Homo sapiens: one gene and its partners. The protein of the gene in region 2 purifies or fractionates together with the protein of the main gene of each other region. This does not show direct contact. Each region holds a gene or a part of one and is shown on either strand. Other genes may lie near its edges.

Region 1 (7,792 bases), on a different chromosome or scaffold from region 2:
AGAGAAACCCTGAGCTGAAAGAGTGATCGCCCACTGGGGCCAAATACGGCCACCTCCCCGCTCCAGCTCCTCAACTTGCCCTGTTTGGAGAGGGGAGAGGGTCTGGAGAAGTAAAACCCAGGAGACGAGTAGAGGGGGAATGTGTTTAATCCCAGCACGTCCTCTGCTGTCCTGCCCTGTGTCGTTGGGGGATGGCGAGTCTGCCAGGCGGCATCACTTTTTCTTGGGTTCCTTACAAGCCACCACGTATCTCTGAGCCACATTGAGGGGAGGGGAATAGCCATCTGCATAGGAGGTGTCTTCAAACAGGACCGAGTAGTCATCCTGGGGCTGTGGGGCAGGCAGACAGGAGGGGCTGCTCAGAGACCCCCAGGCCAGGACAGGCACCCCCTTCCCCCAGCCTAGACCACAGGAGGCTCTGGGCCGTGGACTCTCAGCCACTCCTAACATCCTTCACTCTGGGGTCAAGAAGTCTTGGCCCAGTCCCTGCTGCTACAGAGCTCTTTTCTCAGTGGCTGGAGACCCAAGGCAGGGAATAGGCAGGGAGGAGTAGGGGTGCTGACTCCCTTCCTAGTGGGGTCATAGCTGGAGGGTCTGCTGCCTTTCAAGGACTCTTTGTTGAGAGGACTGAGGGCAACCCAGAGGGTGGCAGGCAGGGATCCTGGCCTCAGGTGGCTTGTGTCCCATGTCACCAAGAGCACAAGGCGGTAGGAGCCCAGGGCTCAGGGCAGGAGCTTCCCATCTCGGAGCTGGTTCTCCTGGGGCTGGAAGCCACTGACTCGGGGCTTGCCAAGGCTGCCAGGGCTGGCAAAGGGATGGTGGCCTTTGGGGCTGGAGTGGAAGAGGGAGGGCAGCTGGTGGGTCCTGTCAGCTTGGAGCCTGTGAGATGAGGACAAAGGGAAGGAGTGGGGAGAGGACCCCTCGTCTGTCTGATCAGCCTGTTCCTGACATCACCCATGGCCTCTCCCCTGGAGGCTGCTTTACCCGCTGTGGGGGCGCATGGATCAGGGCGCGGTAGAAGCAGGTAGTCTGGGGATACAGGGCCAGCACGAGCTGCTCCTTCTGGAACAAGGCCTCAGGGTCCGTCTCCGGGTTGGCCTTCCACTGGGGCAGCGGGATGACACGGCGCCGGCTCAGGGTGTGTCTCCTGGGGGAAGAGGGGCTTATATCAACCTGTGGCCGGGTGGGGATGCTCCTTCTCAGCTGTTAGGCTGCCCCCAGGCTCCATGCCCTGCCCTGGCCTGGACACTCACTCTTTGCCTTCTTCATCGATGTCATCTACCTCATACCTGCAGACAAAAGGAGGAAAAGGCTGGATGCAGCCAGGGGCGCAGTACCTGTTGGGGAGTGAGGATGGGGGAGGACCTGGTGCTCCCTGCACAACCAGCCTCTGGGGAGCACCCTCTGCAGAGCTTTTCTCCCGTAGCCCAGGCAAGTTCGGTGACCAGAGAGCAGCCCCAGGGTTGGTGTCACTCACTTGTTGGTGGCATGGCTGTAACTGACCACCTCGGCCAGGATCCACTGCTCGTCCCCATCCACGGCCTTCACCCGGGCAGCCACCTTGTCTCCAGGTCTGGCCACGTAGTCTCCTGAGGCAGGGATGGCCCCACAGAGGGGTGGGGGCCTGTGAGTGGAACAAAGGGTCAGTCCCAGCCCCTGGGCACCAGCCCCTCCCTCGCAGCTGCTGCCCTCACTTGTCACCAGGCTTCCCGATCCACAGGGGCAGGGTCATGGCCGACTGCTGCAGCAGGGTCATCAGCACCCCTCTGCGCATGGTCTTCCGGGGTGGCTCCGAGTCATTGTAGAGACCGGCAATCTTGGCCGCTGTGGGAAGGAAGGGAGGCCTGAGGCCCCAGGGATAGGTGCCGGCCTTGACCCCCGAGCATGCTGCACTGAGCTGTTGAAGGAGCACCTGGGAGCCCCCAGTTCCCGAGTGAGCCCGAGGGCCCAGCAGGACTGTGACCCCATCGGCCATGTGTCAGCACCTATAGGGGCTGCTGGGTTTAACTACAGTTGGGTGAGATGGCAGCACAGCGGGGATCCAGGGGGAGGAACCAGAAGAAAGAAAGCGGGTTCCAAGGTGCTGTTCAGGCTGTGTTTGCTGATCTGAATGCTGGTTACAGAAGTGTGTTCAGTTAGTGACTATTTCATTGAACTCTGCACTTATGTGTACTTTTCTTCTATTAATATACATTGTAATTCAACAGAAAGTTAAAAAAACCAAAAAAAAAATTAAATGTGCACCTTCAACCTCCTCAGGCACAGCTGGACACCCCACTTGACTTCACACAGAACCAGCATGGCTGTGTGGGGACACTGACATGCCAAGATTCTGCCCACCATGGGATTGTTGGGAGGGCAGACAGGTAGGAGAGCCTAATGCAGGCTGAGGGGGTCTGGAAGGCTGGCTTTACGACACACAGCGTGTGGCTCTGCAGAAACCAGCCAGGGCAACAGATGGGCATGGGCCATGGCAGAGGAGGGGGCGACTGGCCCAGGCCCCAGAAGGGGCAGGAGATGAGGGGCCAGGGCGGGATGATCTCTGGCTGCTGAGGGAGAACTGGGAAACCCCTGCCTCTGGGCACTGGGAATGACCTCCTGTCCCTTCTCAGTGGTAGAGCCAGTCTGCCAGAGCCTCCATGGGAGGATGCCAGCAGGTGGTGGCCACAGGCCCCCACAGGAGGGTGACTGCTGCCCGCAGGGCCTCTCCTCTTGTCCTAGCAAAGGACCTCCCAGCATGTTCTCTCCCACTCACCAATCCGCCTCTCTTCCAACAGAGACTTGATTTCCGCGATCTTGTCCAGAGCTTTCCGAAGGATGCTGAGGGCGGGGAGAAGGGAGAAAGAGGGTTTGGTTAACGTACATAGCATAGACTTCTCTTCCATTTTTTCTGTTTTGGGTCAAGCTACATTGCCCAGGCTGGTCCCGGACTCCAGAGGTTCTCACAGTAGCCTCCTGCGCAGGTGGAATGACAGGTGTGTGCAGGTTCCTGTTCTGGTCAAGGTGGGCTGGGTTATTCAGACCAACCTCATGGTGAAACTAGAAATCTGCCCGGGTGTGGTGGTTCACGCCTGTAATCCCAGCACTTTGGGAGGCCGAGGAGTGTGGATCACCTGAGGTCAGGAGTTCAAGACCAGCCTGACCAATATGGTGAAACCCCGTCTGTATTAAAAATACAAAACTTAGCCAGGTGTGGTGGCGAGCGTCTTTAACTGTAATCCCACCTACTTGGGAGGCTGAGGCAAGAGAATCGCTTGAACCTGGGAGGCAGAGGTTGCAGTGAACCGAGATCGCGTCATTGCACTCCAACCTGGGCAAAAAGAACGAAACTCCATTTCAAAAAAAAAAAGAAAACTGGAAATCTTCAGTATGTGTCTTTTAGTCTTAAGAACATAAAAAACAAGGTGGTAGAAAGCAGCATGCCAAAAACTAAGAGAACACAGGATCCCAGAGAGGAAAGGACACAGGCAAACTGCCTTCGGCAAACCCTGCAGAAAGGCTGCAGGAACCTCCTGAAATGAGGAGAGGGGGCCTCAGGTCTGCCCGAGGGTCACACAAAAGGAGGGGAGACTCTGGGGAGAGGTGCTGGCCCAGAGCAGAACTGGGTGGAAGGACCTCATCCTTTCTGAAAGGCTGAACCCAAAGACAGACCCCTGCATGGCCTTGAAGCCCCAGGAAGCCTCTGTGAAGTTAGTTTATGGGGATTCCAGGGTGGCAGGAACCCAAAGAACCCAGCAGAAGCAAACACAGAACTTGGCTGGAGTGAGGCTCCTTCATCCTAAAGCTCAGGGAATCTTCCCAAAGAGTATTTCCACAGCAGGGATGGGTGTGGTGGCTCACGCCTGTAATCTCAGCACTTTAGGAGGCTGAGGCAGGAGGATCACTTGAGGTCAGGAGATCGACACCAGCCTGGCCAACATAGAGAAACTCCTTCTCTACTAAAAATACAAAAATTAGCCCGGCGTGGTGGCGGGCGTCTATAATCCCAGCTACTTGGGAGGCTGAGGCAAGAGAATCGCTTGAACCTTGGGGGCAGAGCTTGCAGTGAGCCGAGATTGTGTCACTGCACTCCAGCCTGGGTGACAGAGCGAAACTCCATTTCAAAAAAAATACGTATTTCCACAGTAGTCAGCAGCACAAACTCCACTTTGGGTCATTTTATTTTCCTCTGATACCATGGCAAACCCCAGTCCATTCCTCTGGCAAGCCTTTCTGAAATGACCCGGAGTTCTAAAGACCTTTGTGCGGCAGGAAGGAGATGCACAGGAACTGGGTGTGATGCAGCATCTCGGGAGGTGTCCGGGGGTGCCCCAGGGCATGTGACTCATGGACCTCACCAGGCCAGGGCCAGAAGATGGAGGTAGGCCAAGGGCAGCCAAACCAACGCAGGGACAAGGAACAGCTTGCCTGCTGCGTACAATGCAGGGATGGCCCAGCCAGTGCCACCTCAGGCTGTGAGCACCGGGACCCCAGAAAGCAGAGAAGGAGAAAGAGCCACGGGGCCAAAGGGAACTCTGAGAGTCTCATCACTGTTGCCAGGCCTGTGTGGAGGATACAGTTTTATACAGCCTGTCCTAAACTGTCTTCTGTGACATGTTACTGAAGTGGCTTTCAAACCTTGGTGGGCATCAGAATCTCCTGGGGGAAGTTTAAAAAATCTCAATTGTTTCACGCACAAATCATAAATGGATGCTAAAACTAGTGTGTTTGATATGAACAGGATAGTTACAGTCTCAAAAGTATCTCCCAAGACACTTATTAATTATGCAATGGAGGCCAGGTGCAGAGGCTCACACCTGTAATCCCAGCACTTTGGGAGGCCAAGGTGGGTGGATCGCTTGAGCTGAGGAGTTCAAGACCAGCCTGGGCAACATGGCAAAACCCCTCTCTACAAAAAATACAAAAATTAGGTGGAGTGGTGGCAGGTGCCTATTGTCCCAGCTACTCAGGAGGCTGAGGCAGGAGGATCACTTGAGGCCAGGAGTTTGAGGCTGAAGTGAGCCATGATTACGCCACTCCACTCCAGCCTGGATGACAGACTGAGACCCTGTCTTAATCGATCAATCACACAATGGAAAATAGCAGTAATCTGATACAAGAGAAACGTGGAAAATACCACTTTAACCAATGGCACAGACAGCATCCTGTGCCGTCTAATATGACCCACCAGAGACACCTCTTCTGTGCCAAAAGTGTAAAGCATGAATCCTACTAGTGAGGAAATGTCAGATAGTTAATACCAATGTTGGAGCTCCACCCCAAATAAACAGAGCCTCTGGGCACAGTCAGACTTCAGAACCAGTGTGTTCTCAAAGTAGAGGAATGTAATGTTCAAGTTCCTGAATCTCCTGCAGAGATTCAAGGAAACAGTGTTTCCAGATCATTTTTTTATTTTAGTTTTTTTTTTTTTTTTGAGGCAGAGCCTTGCTCTGTTGCCCAGGCTGGAGTGCAGTGGCACGATCTTAGCTCACTGCAACCTCCGCCTCCTGCCTCAGCCTCCCAAGTAGCGTGCGCCACCACACCTGGCTAATTTTTGTATTTTTAGTAGATATAGGGTTTCGCTATGCTAGCCAGGCTGGTCTCAAACCCCCAACCTCAGGTGATCCACCCACCTTGCGATTGCAGGCATGAGCCACTGTGCCTGCCCGGCCTTAAGATTATTTTAAAAGCAGGAGTTTTCTGGAAGTGAAACTTCTCCATCTCAGAACCATAAAACCTTCAGGTCATCTGAGTATGACTTCCCAGCCAAGCTTACAGACACATGCCACCACGCTCAGCTAATTAAAAACTTTTTGTAGAGACAAAGTCTCACTTTGTTGCCCAGGCTGGTCTCAAACACCTGCGTTCAAGTGATCCTCTAACCTCGGCCTCCCAATCACCTCTGTAATGTTGTGATTACAGATCTGAGCTACCCAGCCCCTGATATCCCTATTTTAATGACTCTGCCAAGGTCATAGAGCCAGTAAACGGCAGTGTTGACTCACGCCTTGCCACCTTCTGTAAAGGCATTAGCAGCAGAGGTAACTGGAAGAGTGGGCCTGGCAGTGGGCCAGGGAATGCGGGACCCAAGCGAGAGGCTGGGAGTAGCAATCAGCTTATCCATGGGAGGAAGGCAGGCTGGGGACTTGGTCCAAATGGACCTGCAGCCCAGCCCCCAGGAAAGGAGGGAGCGGCGATGAAGTGGGTGCACGGTACTCACTTGCACTCAGCCTCTGCATCGGCCTTGGCGGTTGTGTAGAGGCCACGCAGCTTTGTCCGGTAATAGGGAGAAACTGCAGAGGAAACACAGGGATAAGGAGGCAGGGCCAGGGCAGGCACAGTAGCATGGCACTGCTTCCATGCACCGGAATCACACTCGTGGAGGCACAGAGAGGCCGTAGCTGCAGTCAGAGCTCTGCTGGCTCAGGAGTGCTCCTGAGGCGGATGCCCCCAGGCTCCATGAGTCCGCATTTCCATATGGTACAAATGCCATCCCTACATCTGCGAGAGTACTGTCTTACCTTTTCTCCATCATGACACTCACAGAAAATATTTGTCAGGACCCAGGAAAACACAATTCTCAGAGTTACCCAGAGTAAGAAAGCCCCAGCCCCAGGATCTCACCACCTGAGGGCCTCAGGGCAGATGCAGGGGCCGCCTGGGAAGGAAGCTCCTTTCTAGAAAACACCAGCTAACTGGGGCGCTTGTGTGCTCTAAGGGCAAGCTTCCCTAGATACAGCCTCATTTCACTGCCTTTCGAATCCTCAGAGTAGAGGGATTTTAGTTCTTCAGGTCACCCAGATTAACGGAAAGCTGTCCCTCCTGCTGCATTTTGGAATATGCAGATACATGCAAATCTATTTTGAATACAATGACCACCTCGGTCACAGTCTTGGCCATACTCACCCTAGCCCCATCTCATCCCCTTTCTCTCCTGAGCCCAGCTACTCACTCTTGTTCTCTGTCTGCATCCGCTCATGGGTCTTCTGGATGTTCACTAAGTTGTGTTCGCTCCGCGAACGCTCTTCCTGTAAGGAAAAGAGCAGCAGGACATGACGGTGGCCCTTTGTGCTGCTGTGGTACCCTGCCAGCCAGGCCAGAGTCCCCATCCCCAAAATACGGCCCTCATTTTCTTTTTTTTTTTTTTTTTTTGAGATGGAGTCTCACTCTGTCGCCCAGGCTGGAGTGTAGTGGCACGATCTCGGCTCACTGCAAGCTCCGCCTCCCGGGTTCACGCCTTTCTCCTGCCTCAGCCTCCCGAGTAGCTGGGACTACAGGCGCCCGCCACCACGCCTGGTTAATTTTTTGTAGTTTTAGAAGAGACGGAGTTTCACCGTCTTAGCCAGGATGGTCTCGATCTCCTGACCTCGTGATCCGCCTGCCTCGGCCTCCCAAAGTGCTGGGATTACAGGCGTAAGCCAATGCGCCCGGCCTAATTTTTTGTATTTTTAGTAGAGACAGGGTTTCGCCATCTTGGCCAGGCTGGTCTTGAACTCCTGACCTCGTGATCCACCTGCCTCGGTTTCCCAAAGTGCTGGAATTACAGGCAAGGGCGCCCGGCTATGGCCCTCATTTTCTAAATCCAAATTCAGGAGTTCAAGATGATTTTCTCCTTTGACTAATGCAAAAGCATTATAAAAGGCCTTAAAGGGCCTGGTGCAGTGGCTTAAGCCTGTAATCCCAGCACTTTGGAAGGCCAAAGTGGGCAGATCACTTGAGATCAGGAGTTCAAGACCAGCCTGGCCAACATGATGAAACCCCACCTCTACTAAAAATACAAAAATTAGCCGGGCATTGTAGCATGTGCGTATAG
Region 2 (7,351 bases):
CCTAAGGTCAGGCGTTTGAGACCAGCCTGCCCAACATGGCGAAACCTGTCTCTACTAAAAATACAAAAATCAGAGGCCAGGTGTGGTCGCTCACGCCTGTAATCCCAACACTTTGGGAGGCCAAGGCAGGTGGATCATGAGGTCAGGAGTTCAAGACCAGCCGGACCAACACAGTGAAACCCCGTCTCTACTAAAAATACAAAAATTAGCTGGGCATGGCGGCGGGTGCCTGTAAGCCCAGCTACTCAGGAGGTTGAGGCAGGAGAATCGCTTGACCTGGGAGGCAGAGGTAGCAGTGAGCTGAGATCGCGCCACTGAACTCTAGCCTGGGAGACAGAGCAAGACTCCGTCTCAAAAACAAAAAACACCAAAAAAACAAAAACAAAAACAAAAACAAAAAAATTAGCCAGGTGTTGTAGCAGGTGCCTCTAATCCCAGCTACTTGGGAGGTTGAGGCAGGAGAATCATTTGAACTGGGGAGGTGGAGGTTGCAGTGAGCCGAGATCACACCATCGCACTCCAGCCTGGGTGACAGAGTAAGACTTTGTCTCAAACAAAACAAAAATAAAAAACCAACAGTTAAACACAGGGAGGTGGGCTAGGTGCAGTGGCTCACGCCTATAATCCCAGGACTTTGGGAGGCCGAGGTGGTGGATCACGAGGTCAAGAGATCGAGACCATCCTGGCCAACATGGCAAAACCCCAACTCTATTAATACCAAAATTAGCTGGGTGTGGTAGTGCACGCCTTAGTCCCAGCTACTCAGGAGGCTGAGGCAGGAGAATCACTTGAACCCAGGAGGCGGAGGCTGTAGTGAGCCAAGTTGGTGCCACTGCACTCCAGTCTGGTGACAGAGCGAGAATCTGTCTCAAAAAAAAAAAAAAAAAACCACAGGGAGGTGGATCAATGAGGGATACATGAACAGAGAGAGGTGGGGAAGGGAATTAACCCAAGAAAACAGCAAGGGGAAATGATAGCGTGTTGCTCTGTCGCCCAAGCTGGAGTGCAGTGGTATGAACATGGCTCACTGCAACCTTGACATCCTGGGCTCAAGCGGTCCTCCTGCCTCAGCCTCCTCAGTAGCTGCACTCACATGTGTGTGCCACCATGCCTGGCTAATTTTTCAAATTTTGTAGAGACGCAGTTACCCCTGCTGGTCTCAAACTCCTGGGCTAAAATGATCTGCCTACCTCAGCCTTACAAATTGTTGGGATTACAGAAGTACAACCGCGCCTGGCTTATACATTTTTTTAAACCTTTTTTTTTCTCTGTCCAAACAAAACTGTTTCATTAGCAGGCTGAAGAGAGACTGTGGTGTACAATAAAGAATCATTCTCGACCGGTATGGTGGCTCACGCCTGTAATCCCAGCCCTTTGGGAGGCCAAAGCGGGCGGACTGCCTGAGGTCAGGAGTTCCAGACCAGCCTGGCCAACGGGGCAAAACCCTGTCTCCACTACAAATACAAAAAAAATTAGCCGGGTGTGGCGGCGCACCTGTAGTCCCAGCTACTCGGGAGGCTGAGGCAGGAGAATCGTCTGAATCCCGGAGGCGGAAGTTGCAGTGAGCCCAGATCATGCCACTGTACCCAAGCAAGGGCGACAGAGCGAGATTCCATCTCAAAAAAAAAAAAAAAAGAAAAAGAAAAAGACCCTCCAGGATCTCGGTCTGTTGCCCATGCTGGAGTGCAGCAGCACGATCTCAGCTAACTGCAACCTCTGCCTCCCGGGTACAAGCGATTCTCCTACCTCAGCCTCCTGAGTAGCTGCGACTACAGGCGCACCGCCACACCCGGCTAGTTTTTTTTTTTTTTTAATTTTAGTGGAGACAGGGTTTCACCATGTTGCCCAGGCGGGTCTCGAACTCCTGAGCTCAGGCGATCCGACGCCTAGGCCTCCCAAAGTGCTGGGATTACAGGCGTGAGTCACTGCGCTCGGCCAGAATAATTGTTATTGAAGGTACTACTCTCTGAAATCTAAGGATGGGAAGAACTGATGAAGATGAGTTGGAGCAACAAACTCTTAACCCGCACACTATTTGTCTAGGATTTGGGAAGTAAAGGTAAGACCCTGGACTCAATCAAACCCAGGCTTTGGTCAACTAGGCAGCTGTCTGGGCTGAAGGGACTTCAATACCTCTATTGGTTGGTTAGGTGGAGATGTCAATGATGCGGGAAGAACTCGTGGACCACCTGCCCTGATGCTTCAGGGTATCACCTGACACTCGCAGGCACATAGTCCTCTCTTTCTGGCTCACTCCGGAAGGAATGGCCAAAACCCTGTGCCAGATTTTGCACAGGAAATAATGTCGAAGAAACGGACTCTCCATTTCCCAAACCTAGGACCTGCTGTTCAGAATTTTTACTCACCTGGACAGAAAATAATCTGGCGTTTCCCCGTGAGCTAGGCGTAAGAAAAAAAAAATCAACGAAGCAGACTAATAGCTAAGGAAGATTTCTGGGGTAAACTGCCCTCTTCAAGTACTCCAGATGCACATACCTTTACATAGTTAACAGATTGTTACCACCATCGAGTCACTAAGGTGCAAGAATCTATGCTAGGCAACTTGAGAATTCTCAAAAGATTGTGAGCAAAACATTTCTCGTCTCCGTTTGACAGCACAGAGACCGGCGAGTCCACACCAGCCCTGCCCCAGGCTCACCTCGGAAGAGGCGACCCCAACCTTCTCGGACTCGTACATGAGGGCCAGGGACCTGCTGGTGCTGGCGGCCGTGGCCTCAGCCCTGCGGAGGACCTCCTGCCGCAAGTACTGCTGCCTGTCCGCGGGCGCGTCGGGCCCGTCGGGGAGGTCTCGGGCGTCCCTCCAAGGGGCCGGCCGGGCGCCTTCGTCCTCCCCGTCGTCGTCGAACGGATTGTAGCTTTTAGGGTAAGCTGACATGGTGCCGGCGCGGCTCTCGGTCTGGGAAACAGAAGGAGGAGCCCCACTGCCGCCGCCGTCCAGGGCCTCGCCCCGCCCGCCGACCCCGCGGTCGTCGCGCGAACTCCTTCCGCGCGTCGCGCGCAGGTGGCCCCGCCCTCGGAGCCGACCATCGCGCAGGTCGGCTGGGGGGGGCCCACATCCGGCGCGCGCAACCGCAGCCTACTGTCCATCCCCTCTCTCCCCTGCAGCGGTGGGCCCGCCCCGCAGCCACGCCCTATCTAGTGTCAGCAACTGAGAGGTCACGTGGCGGGAAAGCCGGATGCACCTACGCCTGCGCCCTGAGGTCGGGCGCTCGCGGGCCAGGAGCGGGGAGCCGGCGGGCAGCGCCGCGGCTCGTGAGGTGATGGCGGCGGCCCCGGCCCGGGGAGGCGGAGGCGGAGGCGGAGGCGGCGGCGGCTGCTCCGGCTCCGGCTCCAGCGCCTCGCGGGGCTTCTATTTCAACACGGTCCTGTCACTGGCCCGCTCCCTGGCGGTGCAGAGACCAGCATCCTTGGAGAAGGTAACGTCGGCGGGCTGGGCCGCGGGCTGACAGGAGGAGGGGCTGGGGTGACGAAGCGTGGAGGCGGGACGAGGGTCTGTGGGAGGCCGAGGCTGGGCTCGCCGGCAGCCTGTGCGGGAGGGGGCGCCTGAGCGGAGGGATCTAGCGGGGGAAGGAGGCCCTAGTGGGAGGGGCTGGTGAAGAGAGAGGGACCGTGGGGGAAGGGTCGGCGGGGCCTGCAGGGCCGCTGCAGGTGGGTGGTTGTGGGATGGGGGTGGGGGATGTGAGCTGCTGGCCCAGGGAGCATCTTGTGACATCGCGGAGGTGGAGGCTGGATCGTGGGCGGCTGTGCGGAGCAGTGGGATGAGCCGAGGACCAGGGGTCAAGACCTGGGGTTCTGCTTCCGATTTCACCTGCTTTTTATTCCGCGACCTTGGGAAGATGGCTTTCTTGTAAAATGGGGATGCTTTTATCTGCTTTGCCGGCTTCACCGGACTGTGGTGACCAGGAGACGAAACACTGTCTTGAAAGTGCTTTGTGACTGTAAACCAACTGCGCAGTGTTATTCTACGAGGCTGGGGGCGTTAGGTTGGGTAAAAGATTGTGCGTTTGCAGAAGGGACAGTGGCAGGGAAAGGAGAGTGAACTGTCAGTGGGCAGAGAAGTGAACTTGGAATTGCTTCAGAAGAGAAAGGTGAAGTCATGCCAGAGCAATCCTCATCTTGGGAGAAAGGTGAAAGGCAACTCAGTGGTGTGCCTTGAGATCTGGAAAGAGACAGATTTTAGAGTGGGACCTGAATTTGTTCCCTGCACTGGCACTTACTTACCATGTCCTCTTGGGTAAATTTAACTCTTAGAGCCTCTGTATCCTTATCTGTAAAATGAGGTTGTTCTTGAGAATTAAATGAGTTCTAGCATAAAGCATCTTGCACAGGTCAAGGCACAGAGTGGGTGAGCAGTAAATGTCAACTTTCTTTGCCCACCCGTGTGCGATGAGACTCAGCACAGTGTTTAGCTCTGAAAGGATGGAATTATTTTCCCACTCAACTTTTTGGCACATGGAGAGAGGATGTTTTCCGACAAGATAAGACAGTGGTGACCGGAGACCAGCCTGCTGCAGTTGGGAGTGGTTTTGTGGCTGTCTGCTGATGGATGAAGCTGAAAGGCTGTTTTAGGCACTTTTGGCAGAGTGACCTGGTCCTTGGCCTTGTCGGTTCTCATATTTGATTTTATCATGCACCTTCGGGGTGAGAAGGTCCCGGCAGATTGGTGCTAACCTGACTTCTAGCTAAAGAGGGAGTACAATGCAATGGAAAGGACATGAGTTTGGAAAATGGAACCTCTGAATTTAAATCCTGTATCACTTGCTTTCACTAGTGTGACTCTAGACAGGTCAGTTCCCTTCTCTGATACTTTGCTATCTTCTGTCAAATACAAGGTAGTACTTCATAGGAGTATTGTGAAGAGCAACAAAAAGGCACGTGGGTACCTAATGTATGAGCACTGTTATCATTAGATAGTCTGACTAATGGAGTGTAGTGCTGTTTTATTGAATCAAACTCATGCTAGCTAGTCAGCACATTCGCTTCTTAGCAGGAGAGCCAACAAATATATCTTATGACTGATTGCTGGATTCTGGGAGGAGAGAGAAGAGAATGCAGTGAATTGGATGATCTTTAAGAAGCTGGTCCTGCAGCTCCAGCAGTGGTAGCACCCTTTCCACTCAGTAACTCAGAAAAGGGCACCTTGAGCTCAATTTGCTTCTTCAGCCATGTTCACTAGTCACGAGAACATTCTGTAATTGCAACATTCTTAGCTTTGTAGTAATAACTGCTTCAGTTGTCAAGATTATATTTTATGATGGGGCACGGTGGCTCATGCCTGTAATCCCAGCACTTTGGGAGGCTGAGACAGGCAGATCACTTGAGGTCGGAGTTTGAGACCAGCCTGGCCAACATGGTGAAACCCTGTCTCTGCTAAAAACCCAACATTAGCCAGGTGTGGTGGCACGTGCCTCTAATCCCAGCTACTTGGGAGGCTGAGGCAGGAGAATCGCTTGAACCTGAGAGGCAGAGGTTGCAGTGAGCCAAGATTGCGCCATTGCACTTCAGCCTGGGTGACAAGAGCAAAACTGTCTCAAAAAAAAAAAAAAAAGAAAAAGATTATATTTTACAAGGAACACAGCCATAGCCACAGGTTGGCAGCTCCCTAATGCCACTTACTTTAGGAAGTACTTCAGTCTCATTGGCAACATTTACCAATCACTTTTTTGGTTTTTTTGAGAGGGAGTCTCGCTCTGTTGCCCAGGCTGGAGTGCAGTGGTGAGATCTCGGCTCACTGCAACCTCTGCCTCTCAGTTTCAAGCTATTTTTCCACTGTAGCCTCCTGAGTAGCTGGGACTACAGGCGTGTGCCACCACCCCGGGCAAATTTTTTAGTATTTAGTAGAGACGGGGTTTAGTATTTAGTATTTAGTGGAGACGGGGTTTCACCCTATTGGCCAGGCTGGTCTTGAACTCCTGACTTCAAGTAATCCACCCGCCTTGGTCTCCCAAAGTGCCGGGATTACAGGCATGAGCCACTGTGCCTAGCTATTACTAATCACTTCTGTGAAGAAGAGTGAATAGAGCAGCACTGGGGCTGCTGTTTTTACAAGAGCCTGCTTACAAAGTTGGCCTTTGGCTGGCATCTGGGAAATAAGCACTTGAATGCTTTCCTCAATCCTGTAACTATTAGTAATAAAGATGGTTCACTATGCCTAGATCCTTTTTACAAACTATGATTTATGTTGAATACCTGCTTTCCTTCTGGGAATCTGATGGCTAGGCTGGTGGTGCATAAATTAAAAACTTAGGGTGCTGATTCTCTAATGGACTTTCCTGGGCACAAACTGCACACATGTATTGAATATTTTGCTGCTGTAGCAAGGAGCAAGCTTGATGTATATCCTCACAGGAGGGAGAGAACATAAGGAAGCCTGTGCATGGGTTTCTACAGGCAGCCCTGACATGCTTTTAGTGACACTTGAGGTCCTTTCCTATTGCTGATATCCATTCACTGTAAAAAATTTAGCCATGAGTACAACTATATACATGTGGGCAGTCTGGGGACCCCTGAAGCACCTTATTTCATAGAGGAGGCTTCTGTAAGTGGCTGACCCCATTAAATATATGTGAATTCCTCTCATCCTTATCTAAGATCTTGCGACTTGATTATGCTAGGGATCATTGTTAATATGTAGTCCCTGGCACATGTATACATATGTAACAAACCTGCATGTTGTGCACATGTACCCTTGAACTTAAAGTATAATAAAAATATATATATATAAAATATGTAGTCCTATAATATGTGTTTTACTACATTCCTCCTTTTGAAGCAATTGACAAAAAGCCCTTAGCATTCCCAAGGAAAAGTTTCTTGTTCTTTTTTTTTTTTTTTTGAGACAGTTTCACTCTTGTTGCCCAGGCTGGAGTGCAGTGGCATGATCTCGGTTCACTGCAACCTCCACCTCCCGGGTTCAAGCGATTCTCCTGCCTCAGTCTCCTGAGTAGCTGGGACTACAGGCACCTGCCACCACACCCAGCTAATTTTTGTATTTTTAGTAGAGATGGGGTTTCGCCGTGTTGGCCAGGCTGGTCTCAAACTCCTGACCTCAGGTGATCCGCCCACCTCGGCCTCCCAAAGTGCCAGGATTGCAGGCGTGAGCCACCACGCCCGGCCAAGTTTCTTGTTCTTAAGAGTAAAGGAATTTTAGAGTACGCACCTGAGATAATAAAGATGGAGACTTATAGGGGGAGATGAGTATTTAAAACCCAATCCCTCCCCTTCTCTCTTCCCTCTTCCCCTTCTCTTTGCTTCTATTTTTTTCTCTTCTTTCTTCCTGAGAGATTGGAGGACTGCGTGGGGCTTGATCTAGATAGGGTTGACCTGGCGA
Region 3 (7,792 bases), on a different chromosome or scaffold from region 2:
GTCGAGGAAGAGCAAGGAGAAGGAGCACATCACGAGGAAGAAGAGGATCCACACGCGGAAGCCAGCGTTGTTTTTAATGGCCTGGGCAGGGACGGGAGCACAGGTGTTTTTATCACACAGGATTTTGGTTTGAGCAGCCCTGAAATGCCCCCCTCTTCCCACGTGCTCTCCTGATCCTGGCTGTAACTATGGGTGTCGTTCCATCTGTGCTTACCTTGAATAGATGGCTTTTGAGATCCACCAGAAGACAAATGGGTTATATTTCCCTCTGTTTGGCCATCATTTGGGTCCTGCACAATTCTCCCTCAACACAACTCTCGGAATCACTCCCTTCTGTCCCAGGGTTAAGGGCCCCGAGCAGAGTGTGACCGCAAGCTTTGTGTTTCCCAGTAACATGATGTCCGTGGTGACCCAACCCTGAGGACTGAGCTTGGGAAACAGTCCCCTCAACAGGATGGCTGTAGTGTCCTCTGTAAGCAGGGGCCAGGCTCTGACCCCTCGGTGGGGGCCAACGAGCTACCCATGTACATCCCTGGACATGAAGAGCTGGCCTGACCCTGCCAGGAGTACCCCCACCCACCCTGGATTGCTCCTTTGGAGGCTGGTGAGCCACTGCCTCTCGAAAGCAGCTGGAGGTGGGCGACAGGTGGTGGGTCTCATGAACACACGCAGCTCCGCGGTCACACAATTTTGTGATCAGCCCCGTGAGCTCTGCCCAGCAAGGCTCCTGGGCAGCTGTGCCGGCGAGACTAACACCCGCTGCTGGGACTCAGTGCTGCGCCACGTCGCACCTGGGGAACCTAAACAGTGCCTACCTCTCTTATGTCTTCGTTGCCTTCCTTGATATTTTCAGTTGCCCCCACAACTAACTGGTGAATGCTGTCAATCTCAGCTTCCTGTGGAAGAAAAGATAAATACAAGTTGAGTATCCTTTATCCAAAAACCTGAAACCCAAAATGCTCCAACGAGCATTTCCTTTGAGTGTCATGTCAGCGCTCAGAAAGTTTCAGATTTTGGAGCACTTAGGACTTCACATTTTGAAGTTTAGGGATGCTTGACATATACAGCCACTTCCTCCTCCCTGAAGCGTATATCATGACAAGAACAGTAGCCGTCACCAAGGGCTAACGGCTTTACTTGCATAGCCACAAATCCTCACAGCACCCCAAGAAGTAGGTATTACCTCTATTTTATGAAACGGAAACTCACGGCTCAGAGAAGTTTACTAACTTGCCCAAAGTCACATCACACAGCAACCAAGTGGCAGGACTGAGACTTTTTTTTTTTTTGAGACAGGGCTTAAACGATCCTCCCACTTCAGCCTCCCAAGTAGCTGGGAGTATAGGCATGTGCCACCACGCCTGGCTAAATTTTTAAAATTTTTTGTAGAGATGGGGGGTCTCCCTATGTTGCCCAGGCTGGTCTTGAACTCTTGAGCTCACACCATGCTCCCGCCTCGGCCTCCCAGAGTGCTGGGATTACAGGCATGAGCCACCGCGCAGGGCTGAGACCCCATCTTGTTGCAGTGCTCCTTCCGCCACACTTACCATCCCTCCTGCGCCACTCGCCGGTGACGGACAAAAACCTAAGAGCTATTGTTTGTGGAGCAGCCACCATATGCCAGGGGCTTCCCTTCTAGTCTCTCATTTCTTTCTGAAGTCCACAGAAGTAAGCTTTAAAATGTATGTGCTTCGAAATACATATGCTAGCTTCAAAAATAGTGCTTTGTGTTTTACTATCATCATATCTCTTAAAAAACAGGCTAAAATTTAAAAATCAAAATAGGATGCAGGATGCTTACAGAAAACGTTTACTCCAAACGAAGCCTTGAAAAGCTTGAGAAGCGTGGGATAACACAGGGGGCGTCTGGCCCCACAGGAGCAGAGACGGTGCTAGACGTCCTTACAAGCAGGAGTGCCTGCTTCTCTCCTCCTTTCGGTGGTGGTGAAGCTGCTTCCTAACAGGGTCAGGGCAGAATGAATGCTAGCGTGGGTTTTTAGAGAAACCTGACTGACACATTGTAGGGAGGAAGGCAGCATGTGGCCTCTGATTCCCAGCAATGAATATTACTGGGATGGCTTTGCCTCATCATCACCCCTTTTTAGAGAGTCTCAAAGTGTGAACTAAGTGACCACTGCCAAGGTTCCAATGAGAGAATCAATATGAACTACAATGCAACACTGATGGAAAAAACAAGAAAGACACATTGTTCCTCAGGACTTAGGAACTCCCAGTGGGCCGGGCGCAGTGGCTCTCGTCTGTAATCCCAGCACTTTGGGAGGCCAAGGCAGGTGGATCACCTGAAGTCAGGAGTTCGGGACCAGCCTGGCCAAGATGGTGAAACCCCGTCTTTACTAAAAATACCAAAATTAGCCAGGCGTGGTGGCATGCCTGTAATCCCAGCTACTCAAGAGGCTGACTGAGGCAGGAGAATCGCTTGAACCTGGGAGGATGAGGTTGCAGTGAGCCAAGATAGCAACATTGCACTCCAGCCTGGGCGACACAGCAAGACTCTGTCTCCAAAAAAAAAAAAAAGAAAAAGAAAAAAAAAGAAAAGAAAAAGAAACTCCCGGTGAGCCAAGGCAAGGCTCTGCCTATGCTCTGCACGCCCCTCCCAGGCCCCCTGGAGCCGCTGGGAGGTTTGAAGCAGGGTAGTGTTATTAAAAAGGGCGACTCCTATGAACCCGAACTTGCAAACCACTGTTAGACTTAATGTACCTCATTTACAATGATTTCACTCTGGCTGTGTGGTTTATGGAAAGTCATTTTGTGAGTGAAGTATCTTAAGTCAAGTAGTCCAGTTTAAAATACTGGAGAAAATTTTGTCTTTCAAACGTTCCCATAGTCTTTGGATGCTAAAAATAAAAGGGCAAATTTATCAGGTCTTGAAAAGTTTTGCCAGTTATTGGCTGGAAGAATTTCAGAAAATTCACTTGAAAAGAACAATCCTATTTCCCACGCAGACACCATCCCTGAGGTGGCATGGACCGCGCGTTGTGAGAGGCCTGGGTCTGAGCTCCTGTAACCTACTGACTGAAAAGCAACTGCCCGTCAGCATCGTGCTGGATGCTTCTGCAGTTATCTCTCAAACAGAGAATAACCCTGCAGGAGTCCCTCCCTCCTATAGATGGGAAACTGTAGCTTGTGGGGGCTACCTAGCTTACCCAGCACATCCAGAACCCTGACTGCCAGGCCTGGACTCTCCTCCCACGTGCCACCGCATGTGCTACCACATGGGGTGGTCAGTGGGTCCCCTGTGGGGAGCTCCTCCTCCATCACACGTGTGCAGAGGCAGCTCTGGGTAGTGAGAGCTTTTCCCTGAGGAGCTCTGCGCACACACACCTGCTAGCAACACATGGCTCTGCTCCTGGCTGTGTAGAGCAGCAGCCTTTGGGAAAAATGTCTCGTGCTCTCAAGTACATTCCCCTTTGAGTGAAAACATACAGCTCCTTTGTTTTTGTTTTTTTACCTGTTGCAAAACCTTTTCCGTGAATATCTCTTGGAGTCTGGAAATCTCAACCACTCTCCCTTCGATTTGCCTTCATAAAAAGAACAGATTACATATTAACTATTAGCACTTGGTAATCTAACAGGACTGTTACACACTTCTAAAGAAATCCTATCTTCTACGTGAAGGTGGGAGAGACAGGGGGCACACTGTGTCGGCTGGGGGAAGAGGAGATGGGAGAGGAAGGCGAACTCTCCTTACTGGGTCACCTTCCCTGTCTTCTGGCATAGCCTAGCACACTGGTCTTTTTGGAAGTCCACTCTACCATGCCAACTGACCCTCAGTCCCAAGAGGTGGGTGTGTGCAGTGCCCTTTGCATTCTGTGTCACTGCTCGGGGAATGGGGAGGGCCTGGTTGTGCCCCAGTTACAGAAAGCAGTCTCCAGTAAGTTCTCTGCCTAGCCTCATCACCATGGTAACACATGGTGGGGATTCAGAAGGTCAGAATATGCTGATGATCCAGCTTTGTTAATGCTCAGCAGGTTAAAGAAAAAAGTGTATTTACCTTCAAACCAACTCCCTGTTCCAAGAAAAAAGCTCCTCTGATTCATTTAGAAAATGCCATGTCTTGGTTTGGCAACGGAGTGTTCTGTCGGATCTGAAACACTTGGGCTAGCCATCTTCCTGGTGTCAGGGGCAGCATGGGCTACCCTGGGGGGCGGGTGGGGGCACATCTATTTAGAAACAGAAGCTGGCCCAAGCTGAAGTCAACTGCTGTTCCAGCACAAAGCAGCGACAGGAAGTGACAGGAGGCAAAAAGTGGTGGGAGCTGAGCTCCTGGCCAGGTGGAAGCAGTGATGAATCCCAACAGTATCACAGTGGCAGGGGGCAGGGGAGGAGATGTGGGAAGAAAAGCCAGTGAGTATCTGGGCATGGGGGAGTAGCGGGGTGGGGGCGGTAGTGGGGCAGACAGTGAAAGCTAGGCTGTCAGAGGAGGACTAGGAGGTCCATCTCTGAGGGCAGAAGGCGAAGAGCCCCTTGGAGGCTGACACCTACACTGAGAAAGTCCTCAGGCTGTGTGAGTGCAGCATCAGGATTGATTTTATTTGGGGGACATGTCCACAATACAACAGGCTCTGCAAAGTCCTGGGCCTTACTTTCAGCATGCTCCAAGCCTTCCCACAGAAACTAGAGGCTAACGGGTGCATGTGTGAGTGACCAAGGCCTTGCCTTCTGCATTCCTGACTCCCTGGTGGGTACAGGAGCAGGCAGACCCCAGTGGAACCATTTGCAGAAGAGGGCTTCCCTTGGTTAGCTGCCCTTCATAAGGGCCCCATTTCATTTCAGAGTCGCTGCGTGGAAACAGCCCGAATGGTGGTGGAAATTATACGCAGGTAATCTGTAGTCACTCCTGTATCTCTCGGGGTGGGAAGCACCTGGGCCCCCCGCAGCAGTGGCAGCAGGCAGGAGGTAACCCACAGGCCCACAAGCTGAGGGAGTTGTGGATTCAGGCCACATGCCCACCCCAGCCCAGTCAAAATGGCTGAGGGGGGCTGCACCAGCCCAAGGGCCCCATGGGGATGCCTGGGCACCAAGGTAAATAAAGTTCCTAGTTCCTGGAAAAGTTGTAAAGCAGGCTATCAGCTCACAGAGGAGCTACAAACATACCTCACTTCATCAAACAAGCTGTTCATTTCACCAATTAGTCGCTGATTTTCCTGTTCAAACTGTGAGGAAACAGACACACTCAGGATGACATCATACTGAACTTAGGCAAGAGTCTAGCAAGAAAGCGGACCTACGCTCCAGGAATCACTGCCGAAGCCCCCATTTCCAGCTGCGGCAACGTGGCAGCCGGTGCTGGACGACCGTTAGCATTAGTGTGAACAACGTCCCTGCTTTCAGGAGAAAGTTTTAAAAAACAGCTGTGCTGCCTGGTAATTGACTTCTCCATCTCAACCACTGCACTCCAGGGGTACAAGCTGACTGCTATGGCTGTAGCTGTATCTACCTACCCGCTCTCCCCTGGGATCCCACGGCCTGCTTCCTGACTCTAGTACCATTATTAAGAAAATTCTTTTGTTGTTGTTTTCTCTCATGAACTATACTGAAGGACTATACATATTTTTTAATATGGAGAAGGATCTGGTGTGGGGAGGGTCTGGAGAGGAAGGGGAGGTGGGCAGCTTGGCCGAGCTGCCTCTGGGCCCCTCTGACTTCAGAGCCTGGCCACTCCACTGCTCAACAGGGACAGAGGCCCAGAGCCAGAGGAGCGTGTTTCCCAGTGCTCAGGCTGGGTGAGGACGGGTGCCCTGACACCAGGGATACATGGGAGCTTCTTGGAGCTGAGTGAGCTTGGCACAGACAGTTGCTCTCCCAGCCATTCTTGCCAGTTTGATATGGGCCAAAGAAAAGGATGGAAGCTCCTGAAACTCAGCACAGAGAATGGACAGGAACAGCTCCTTGCCCTCACTGCAGGCCCCCACAGCCCTGTCCTCGTGTGTCCACTCAACTCCCGCAATGTGCAGGGAGTCAGGGGCGTCCTGCATTTCCTCCCCGATGCATCCCGCAGGCCCCACTTCTCCAGGACACCTACCCTGGCCCCTAAGCTCAAACTTATTTCTCATATTCCTATCCTTGGCCTACCATTTTCTGAAAATATCTTAGGATAGTAGCGCCCAACGGTCCCTTTCTGCCTTGTAATAAACTGTGCCCATCCCAAACTTCCCGTGTCACCCTGAGCTTCCTGAGGGCGGGAACTGGGTGGAACATAACTTTGCAAAGGCATTCCAGTTGTTCTTTCTTTCTTATAGATTAAAGCTGCCATCAAATCCACAAATATTTTCTGAGGCATTCTGTAAGCAGGAGTGGGAGGGATACATACAAGCAAGCCTCTGGAGGCTCCGAATCGATGGAAGATCTGGCTTATCACTTGCTTAGTAAACCAAAAATACAAGGGAAACAATGGTTATGGGAGGCAGCTGACCACCACGGGCTATGCTGGCACTTCATTCAACAGCCTGACCTTGTTGCCATTGTCCTAGGGCGGAAATGAGTTGCAGGGTCTCCCCAGCAGCCTCCTTCCCACCCAGGACCCCTCCCCTCCAAGTACCCCAGCTGTGCTCTATGCAGGCGCTCTTCACACACACGCCCCTTCCTAAGTCCACCAGTTTCGCCCCCGCACATGCACTTGCTGTATTCAGCCCTTCCCCTACCGTCCACATTCCACCCTCACCGTTTCTCACTTGCCTCCAACCTGTTATCCAATCCTTGGTCAAAGTGATCTCAAGTGCTGGTCATGCCAGAATGCCTCATGGTGGCCTTGCCCGCTGACCCTACAGATCAGGTCTAGGGCACACTGTTATCCATGCCCTGGCCACGTGACATCTCCCATCTCAGCTCTGCTCTGACAGGCTAGTTTCCTGCCTGGCTGCAGAACTCCACGTGGTCCCTCAAAACCCCAGGCATCTTCCTAGCGATCTGATACCTCAGGGCAGACTGAATCACCTTCTCTTACTTTCTCACTCTTGTTACCAAGTTCCCCTGTACTTGGCTCTTCAAGGACATTTCTCACACTTGTTCAGGGGGCTTGTCTTCTCTCTGTGGAAGGCAGCTGTCCTCCTTTGGACACTGAGCCCAGCCCAGGGCCTCACACATGACAGAACACCAGTTCTCGGCCCCGGCTACTCAAAACACAAGGAGGCATCTGCTGCACTCCAGACCCACCGGGCCAGAAAACGGGGAAGGGGCAAAGCTCTGGGAAGGGCGGAAGTGCCAGGAAAGCTCCCTGCAGGACCAACTCATCCACAGCAGGGGGCCGTGCTGGCTGCTGACACAGAATTGCTTATGGCCCCTTTAATTAGGCAAGACAAAGGCTATTTAAGAGAGTAAAACTTTCACTTTTGAGTTTGAAAGTATCCGCTCTGTTAACTTCAACAGTTACTTAAGAGGACAGTATTTAAGGAAAACATGTAATTACTAAAACATGCAGGCGCCAATTCACTTTGGCTAATTCAGGTACTACTCAGCTTTCCCTGGGTGGCGGCATTTTCTTGAATTTTTCTAATGACAAAATATGGCCCTGGCCCTGACCTTTTAAATCCACAGTCCCTTTTATGCTTTGAAACTGTTCCTAAACAAAATTAACTAGTGGTTTGGGGTGATTCATTCCTGGACTGTTCCTTGGGAACAAAGCTTTTCTTGTTTCCTCCCCAATTTGAGGGCCTGTGGTATAAGGCACTTAGGTGCGGCACCTCCTCTTAGGCCTCTTCGTAATTGTTAACTTCTGATAGCTCCATGTCCGCCCTCCACTGCACTCAGGAGTGGGATCAGATGCTGGCTCTAA

What was found.
Region 1: the proteins of SNAP29 (region 2) and SGF29 purify together in Homo sapiens (affinity purification with mass spectrometry; 4 studies listed by BioGRID and IntAct, with this or other methods). This does not show direct contact.
Region 3: the proteins of SNAP29 (region 2) and STX18 purify together in Homo sapiens (affinity purification with mass spectrometry; 5 studies listed by BioGRID and IntAct, with this or other methods). This does not show direct contact.

The regions. Positions count from the first base shown.
Region 1 is NC_000016.10:28,584,128-28,591,919, reverse strand, and holds the end of SGF29 (SAGA-associated factor 29), read right to left. Parts: intron 7,008-7,792; coding exon 6,932-7,007; intron 6,273-6,931; coding exon 6,200-6,272; intron 2,821-6,199; coding exon 2,756-2,820; intron 1,825-2,755; coding exon 1,695-1,824; intron 1,625-1,694; coding exon 1,478-1,624; intron 1,290-1,477; coding exon 1,254-1,289; exon of another isoform or gene 1,249-1,253; intron 1,148-1,248; coding exon 985-1,147; intron 880-984; coding exon of another isoform or gene 868-879; exon of another isoform or gene 331-867; coding exon 214-330; 3' UTR 130-213; downstream 1-129. UniProt on the Homo sapiens protein: Chromatin reader component of some histone acetyltransferase (HAT) SAGA-type complexes like the TFTC-HAT, ATAC or STAGA complexes.
Region 2 is NC_000022.11:20,854,656-20,862,006, reverse strand, and holds the start of SNAP29 (synaptosomal-associated protein 29), read right to left. Parts: upstream 3,001-7,351; 5' UTR 2,897-3,000; coding exon 2,660-2,896; intron 1-2,659. Other genes in the region: PI4KA (phosphatidylinositol 4-kinase alpha), read left to right, coding at 3,282-3,437. UniProt on the Homo sapiens protein: SNAREs, soluble N-ethylmaleimide-sensitive factor-attachment protein receptors, are essential proteins for fusion of cellular membranes.
Region 3 is NC_000004.12:4,420,049-4,427,840, forward strand, and holds part of STX18 (syntaxin-18), read right to left. Parts: intron 5,175-7,792; coding exon 5,116-5,174; intron 3,540-5,115; coding exon 3,470-3,539; intron 897-3,469; coding exon 816-896; intron 82-815; coding exon 1-81. UniProt on the Homo sapiens protein: Syntaxin that may be involved in targeting and fusion of Golgi-derived retrograde transport vesicles with the ER.